2 linked regions of the Homo sapiens genome follow. The protein of the gene in region 1 interacts with the protein of each later gene in a pairwise test. Each region holds a gene or a part of one and is shown on either strand. Other genes may lie near its edges. The genes, in order: MCMBP and SMC3.

The links.
Region 2: the proteins of MCMBP (region 1) and SMC3 interact in binary tests that used the Homo sapiens proteins (3 or more experiments, as listed by UniProt).

What each region holds. Positions count from the first base shown.
Region 1 is NC_000010.11:119,866,263-119,870,084, reverse strand, and holds part of MCMBP (mini-chromosome maintenance complex-binding protein), read left to right. Parts: intron 1-3,822. UniProt on the Homo sapiens protein: Associated component of the MCM complex that acts as a regulator of DNA replication.
Region 2 is NC_000010.11:110,574,079-110,577,900, forward strand, and holds part of SMC3 (structural maintenance of chromosomes protein 3), read left to right. Parts: intron 1-1,257; coding exon 1,258-1,325; intron 1,326-2,281; exon of another isoform or gene 2,282-2,383; intron 2,384-3,342; coding exon 3,343-3,414; intron 3,415-3,756; coding exon 3,757-3,822. UniProt on the Homo sapiens protein: Central component of cohesin, a complex required for chromosome cohesion during the cell cycle. The cohesin complex may form a large proteinaceous ring within which sister chromatids can be trapped.

The sequences.
Region 1 (3,822 bases):
TGTCACAATAATCTAGAGTGTGCTGTCCAGGGCAGTAGCCATGTGTGGCTATTTAAATGTAAATTAATTAAAATTACACAAAATTAAAAATTCACCTCCTCGGTGTTAGCACATTTCAAGTGCTCAGTAGCTACATGTGGATAGGGGCTATTATATTAGCACAGATCTAGCATATTCCTAACATCAGGAAGTTCTCTGTACAGCACTGATCTAGAGGACACCGCTTTTTAGTATGTGATGCTAGTTTTTTTGGATAACCAGCTACTCACTGACTCTCTTTCAGGATCTGAATTTGGTCACTGTATCTTATCCGTTCTAGGGGTTTTGTTTTTGTTTTTGCTTTTTTTGTTTTTGAGATGGAGTTTCGTTCTTGTCACCCAGGCTGGAGTGCAACAGTGTGATCTCGGCTCACTGCAACCTCCTCCTCCCAGGTTCAAGCAATTCTGCCTCAGCCTCTGGAGTAGCTGGGATTACAAGTGCCTGCCACCATGCCCAGCTAATTTTTTTTTTTTTGAGACTGAGTCTTGCTCTGTCACTCAGGCTAGGGCGCAGTGTTACAATCTTGGCTCACTGCAGCCTCTGCCTCTTGGGTTCAAGTGATTCTCCTGCCTCAGCCCCCTGAGTAGCTGGGATTACAGGTGCATGCCACCATGCCCAGCTAATTTTTGTATTTTTAGTAAAGACAGGGTTTCACCATGTTGGCCAGGCTGGTCTTGAACTCCTGACCTAGTGATCCGCCCACCTTGGCCTCCCAAAGTGCTGGGATTGTAGGCGTGAGCCACCACACCGAGCCGCTAATTTTTGTATTTTTAGTAGAGACAGGATTTCACCATGTTAGCAAGGCTGGTCTCGAACAGGTGATCTGCCTGCCTCGGCCTCTCAAAGTGCTGGGATTATAGGCGTGAGCCACCGCGCCCGACCCAGACCCTCATCTCCAATGCTACTGTCAAAATTAAAGCCATCGTAGTCTCTTTCCTGGACGCTGGAACAGCCCTCTAACTGGTTTCTTGCCTCCAGTCTTGCTTCTCTTCCACCTGCCATACTGGAACCAAGTCCTTCAGTGACTTCTTGTTACCCTTACTATCTGATCCAGGACTTTTAAAGTGGTTTATGAGGCCCTTGTTGGCTCCACCCTTGCCTTGCTCTGAGACTTTATCACTGCGTACCCCCTCCTCATACTCCATCCCAGCCGCACTGAACCTTTTTTCAGTTCTTTAATTTTGAACCTGTGTCTAGGCCTTTTTGCATCTGCTGATTTCTTGTGCCTGATTCCCCCTCCCATCCCATGTCCACTTTTCTGGCTAAGTCTTACTTTTCCTTTGGGAACTTAAGTTAGGTACCAAAGTAGGGTACCCCTGCTCCATGTTACTGCAGGATCCTATTATATATGTCTTTGAAAAATAGTGTGTAAAGTGCATTGTTGAAATTCCTTGTTTCGGAAGTTCCTTTGCTGGATTTTGACCCCGCGAATTCAGGGCCCCTGTATCTGCATTATTCACCACTGTATCCTAATTTCTTAGAATTTGCCTTGTACATTGAAAGTGCTCAGTGGACACTTGTTGAACAAAAGCAGTGAAAAGACTGATTAATCAGAAATGTTGTTAATTGAAATGGCTAGTGAGATCACAAATCTCAAAATTTTTCTTTTCTTTTTTTCTGGAGTCAGTGTCTTGCTCTGTTGCCCAGGGTGGAGTGCAGTGGCGTGATCTCGGCTCACTGCAACCTCCGCCTTCTGGGTTCAAGCCATTCTCATGCCTCAGCCTCTCGAGTAGCTGGGATTAAAAGTGTGCACCACCATGCCTGGCTAATTTTTCTATTTTTAATAGAGACAGGGTTTTGCCATGTTGGCCAGGCTGGTCTTGAACTCCTGGCCTCAAGTGATCTGCCCCCACTTGGCCTCCCAGAGTGCTGAGATCTCAGGTGTGAGCTGCTGCGCCCAGCCTCTTTAGCTGTTTTCCCTTCAACTATTGGTTAGACCAAGATCATTATTCTCGTTATATTTAAGCTTCTTTGGTTGTATCTAACAGAACTAGACTAGCTCATGCAAAAAAGAGCAGGGTTGGGTGAAGAGGGGCAGAGCAGACTATTTTATCACTAGCATTTTAGAGAATTTAAAGCAATAATAAAATGAACTAAAAGTTAGTTGGTCTGCTTTTTATTATCACCATGAATCTAAACAGACAATCTGTGCCCTTATTGTCTGTACCCAGCTTGGACCTCTTCTACCACTCTGTCCTTGGTAGGCCACTGAAAAAAGTTAATTTATATTAAGGCTATAAAACCCAAGAACAGGGGAAGTGGTTGGGTATTCGAAGAGACTGAGTGGAATCAGGAACTGGAAAGCTAGCAGGAATCCAAGCAACTCAGTATTTCTTCTCTTGGGATACATTAATCTCTGCACACTTTCTCTTTCTCTACTCCATGTCTCCCAAATTTACTTGTTCTCGGTTCCAACCCACGCTAGCTAGCATCTTTATTTTCAGGCATAGAAAATCTGATTGGCACAACATGGAGTCAGGAATCCATTCACTCAGGGATCAGTCATCTGTGGCCATGGCACAGAGTTAGGTAGGACAATCGTGACTGTTATCCACACCTCAACATTGGGGGCGTTCTCAAAGAAGAAGAATAGCTCCGGCAGCCATGGCAGATGGCATACGTAGGAGTTTTTAAGTTATAATAACTTACACATGGTTTTAAAAAAAATCAACATGATGGTATGAACTGAGTGAAAGTACGTGCTCCCTCCATTGAAGTAACCACTTTTTTTTTTTTTTTTTTTTTTTTTTTTTGAGATGGAGTCTCGCTCTGTCGCCCAGGCTGGAGGGCAGTGGTGCGATTTCGGCTCACTGCAACCTCTCCCTCCCAGGTTCAAGCGATTCTCATGCCTCAGCCTCTTGAGTAGCTGGGACTACAGGCGACCACCACCACACCTGGCTAATTTTTGCATTTTTAGTAGAGTCGGGGCTTCACCGTGTTGGCCAGGATGGTCTCGACCTCCTCTGCCCTCGTGATCCACCACCCTCGGCCTCCCAAAGTGCTGGGATTAGAGGCATGAGCCACCGTGCCCTGCCTGAAGTAACCGCTTTTAACTGTTTTTGCTTTTAGAGGTTTTTTTCTTTGAGACAGAGTCTCGCTCTGTCACCCAGGCTAGAGTGCAGTGGCACGATCTCTGCTCACTGCAACCTCTACCTCCCAGGTTCAAGCAGTTCTACTGCCTCAGCCTCCCGAGTAGTTGGGACTACAGGCGCCTGCCACCACACCCAGCTAACTTTTTGTATTTTCGTAGAGATGGTGTTTCACTATGTTGCTCAGGCTGGTCCAAAAAAATTTTTTTTCTTTGAAATAAAATTCACATAACAAAATTTAACATTTTAAAATGTACAATTGAATTTTTTTTACTGTATTCATAATGATGTTGTGCAACCATCACCACCACTATCTTTTTCTCTTTTTTTTGAGACGGAGTCTCACTCTGTTGCCCAGGCTGGAGTGCAGTGGTGCAAACTTGGCTCACTGCAACCTCTGCTTACCGGGTTCAAGCGATTCTCTTGCCTCAGCCTCCCAAGTAGCTGGGATCACAAGCATGCACCACCATTCCTGGCTAATTTTTGTATTTTTAGTAGAGACGGAGTTTTACCATGTTGGTCAGGCTGCTCTTGAACTCCTGATCTCAGGTGATCCACACGCCTCGGCCTCCCAAAGTGTTGGGATTACAGGCATGAGCCACCACGCCCGGCCACCCCTATCATTTTCATCACTCCAAAAAGAAACCCCATACCTTTAGTAGTCTCTCCCATTTCTTCTGTCTTCCATCTCTGG
Region 2 (3,822 bases), 9.3 Mb from region 1:
TTGAATGTAATATATAAATGTTATAAATGCATATTTTAAACGTATGTAAATGCAGTAGAATAGTTGATAGTATTGTTTTGGAAAATTGTTCATCTTTCTTATTTCACCTTTTTGAAAACGTTTTCTAAACCAATCATCTTTGTAAAGGATGAAGAGGTATAAAAAACTTGAAACTGAACAGACTGTTGTCACTTTGAAGATAGTAAATAGAGCTTCAAAAATTCTCTCTAAATTGCATTTAAGTGTAAATAGCAATGCGTCTGTTAACAAATCCTTTGAGGAGAAAAACATTTTAACAAAATTAGACAGTTAAGGAGTAGGTTGAAAAATTTGAACTTTTTAGTTGGGTAATGCTTGAGGGAAAGGGGCATTTAGTGGACTGGCTTAGTAAGAACAAAGGTTCTATCTCTTCTGTGCACACGAATCTGAAAGGCACTCTCTAGCCTGTATATCCTATTGTGGTTGTAATTTGGCAATGATGAGAGAATGGACTGAAGTGGAAGTATTTCAGAATCTCCAGGGCAGTGTGAAGTCTCCTCACCTCGACCTGTGTCCACAGCACACACATTAATGCTTATGCACGTACTTGCTGATGTGGGCACCCCCACCACCTCCACACACACACAGTGCCAGAGGTCTCTTGGGTGGACTGGGACAAGAACAGCTGAGTAAAGAGTTCCACTTCCTAGGCAGGGTGGTCCAGTTAGGTACTCTATACCGAAGTAGGAACGGCCCCTTCTTACAGAGCTCGGTATAGTATAAGAAGTGTAGTATAAGTTGGGCATCTCAAACATTTCCCTGTATTTCCTTAGTTTTATTTCTTTTGGTAAAGTATCCACTTAAGCATATTCTCAAAATACATCCTATTTTGTTAAAAAGGATTTTAACTCATATCATTTATGTCTAGTGGGGAAAAAAGCAAATACAGTGTTAACCTAATCCAGTCAGTGAACACTTTGAGCCAGAGGTATACCTTAGTTTTGCTTGTCTGTTTTCATGTATTTCGGTGGTTTCTCTTTATTTCCTTACCTTAAATGTTTCAATGAAAACTTCTCAGTATTTTTCTTATATCATTTCCTACCTGATTAGTCTGATGTGCAGGCACATTTTCTGCATTTCCTTTTGTCCATATGAAACAGATAATTTATTTGCATTGTCTATTACCAGACACACTATGTTCTATTGAGGTGTGGGAAGTTATAAATAAGTTATAAACACTTTTTTAGGGTATACTAATAGTTGTTTTTGTATTTCCAGCAATTCAGTTTGTTCTCAGTGATGAGTTTAGTCATCTTCGTCCAGAACAGCGGTTGGCTTTATTGCATGTGAGTGAGACTGCTTTAAGACATTATTGATATTACATATATTTTAAAAATAAATTTTCCATGCTGGTTAAAAAAGCATTTGTTCAAGTTTCAGATTCTTTGTGAACAAGACACAATCTTTCTCATAAGTGTGTTACTCTGCTGTGAAATTTAGCCTAACATATTAATGCCAGATAAAAGCCCAATTTTTATACAGTGGTTTAGGAGAAAATTATAGGATTTGCCTATAGATGGATATGTCCTCCATATAAATGTCTTAAAGGAGACATGATATATATCATAAGTGTTTTATTCTGCTGTGAAATTTAGCCTAACATGTTAATGCCAGATAAAGGCCTAATTTTTATGTGATGGTTAGGAGAAAATTATAGGATTTGCCTATAGGTGGGTATGTCCTCCATGTACATTTCTTTAAGGATGTGATCTGCAAAGGCTTAAGAAGCAGGTTTGCTGAGGAGAAAGAAGAGTTTGAGGTTGCAGATTAGGAACTTTAAGATGCAGAACCAAAAATTAATTGGGAACATAGAGAAACAACCATTGCAAACTAAACAACATACAAGTTGTTTGTTGTTTTAGCCATATTTGTACTTAGATAGTAAACATCATTTTCCAGTATGAAAAACAGTAGAGATGTTCTGCAACTTACAGCGGGGTTATGTCCTAATAAACCTATCATAAACTGAAAATACCATAAGTCAAAAATGGACATTAGCCTACAGTTGAGCAAAATGATCTAACACAAAAGTCTGTTTTATAATAAAGTGTTGAATCTGTCATATAATTTATTGAATACTATGCTGAAAGTAAAAAACAGTGATTTTATGGATACTCAAATTATGGTTTCTACTGAATGTAGACTGCTATCACGTTGTCATTCAGCCATTTGTTGAACCATCGTAAGTTGGGGACCACCTGTATATTTACAGTAATGTGAGTTAGGATATTTTATTAAGTGGGTCCTTTTGTAATGCATAAGCACGATGATTGGGTTTTCGTGTTCATGTGAGTCATGCCTCCCTCAAACCTTGTTAGGACATTGGCACATTACCAATGTGATGTGGAAAAAAATATGAGTAATGGACTAAAGTAATTTTAGGATAGAAAATCATGAAAGACTACAATAAAACGATTAATCCTTCTGATTTGAATATTGTTTATTAAAGACTAGAAAATGAAATTCCTCAACATGTCTTAACAGTGTTTCTCACACATAGGAAATTGTTTTGTTTAGCTCTTGTCTGTCTTTTCCCCTTGTTTAGTTTGAATTTGTAGCCCAGTAATCAGAATTGATTTCCTTTAGAAAAATTCTTTTTAGGTTTTTCAGATTGGCATTAAAATAATTAATAACCTCTTTGGTACAGTTCTTCATTGTATTTACTACATAGTTTCTATAATCTGGAAGGTATCTGGACTTGGTACCATAGTTTTTGTGTCATAGATTGGTTTAAATGTGACACATGTTAAATGTGTATATTTCTATAATAGATTTAAAACTGTAGAATGTCTCAATTTTTCTTAAAAAACAGACTTTTGGTAATTATCCCATGATTTATTAGGATTTCTTTGCAGCATTAAAATGAGACTGTAAGAGAAAAGCCTCATGGTGTATTAGATATTAGCAAATAGGTAGAGTTAAATGTCCCCAGTCTTGCAGTCTAATAAAGTGGTCTGTAGAATCATATTTAAGGATATCTAACTTTGACATGTCTTGCATAGCTCTTATTTTTTATTTAGAATCAAAAGCTATTTGGTTGAGAAGTTTTGTTGTCCTAATCTAACGTCTCTGCTGTTTTGGCAAGAGGGATATATACTATAACTCTGGGGATATCCCCAAAGTATGTATCCCTCTTGCCAAAAGAGCAGAGACGTTAGATTAGTGTGTGTGTGTATATATGAATCTAGCAGAAATTTTTCTCCATTGAATCAGACTTGTTATTATGCCCTAGACTTTAAGAATCCTTTAAAGGATATGAATATACAACTTAAATGGCAAATTTCTCACTTCTTTCATTTTTAGGAAGGTACTGGTCCTCGTGTTATTTCTGCTTTTGTGGAGATTATTTTTGATAATTCAGACAACCGGTTACCAGTAAGTAACTTTTTTTTTAAAGTAATGTTGAGAATTTAATTGGTTTAGCTGATTTTCTTCATACTTTGAAACTTTTTAAGCTTTTATAATTTGTTATAATTACAGTTTATATACTGATTTTATCTTAAAATGACAATGAATACTCTGTTAACAAATGGGAATGTACAAACTGTTGTGAAAAGTGTCTTGGTTAAGAGTATTGAGTATTTGTAGTATTATTTTTAGTGAGATAATTGAAATTTTAAAATAAATACTTATGGGCAAGGACTTTAAAATGACCTTATTTAAAAAGTTTTCTCCTTTACTATTAAATTAACTGTGGGCTTTTACATTTTTTCTTAGATCGATAAAGAGGAAGTTTCACTTCGAAGAGTTATTGGTGCCAAAAAGGATCAGTATTTCTTAGAC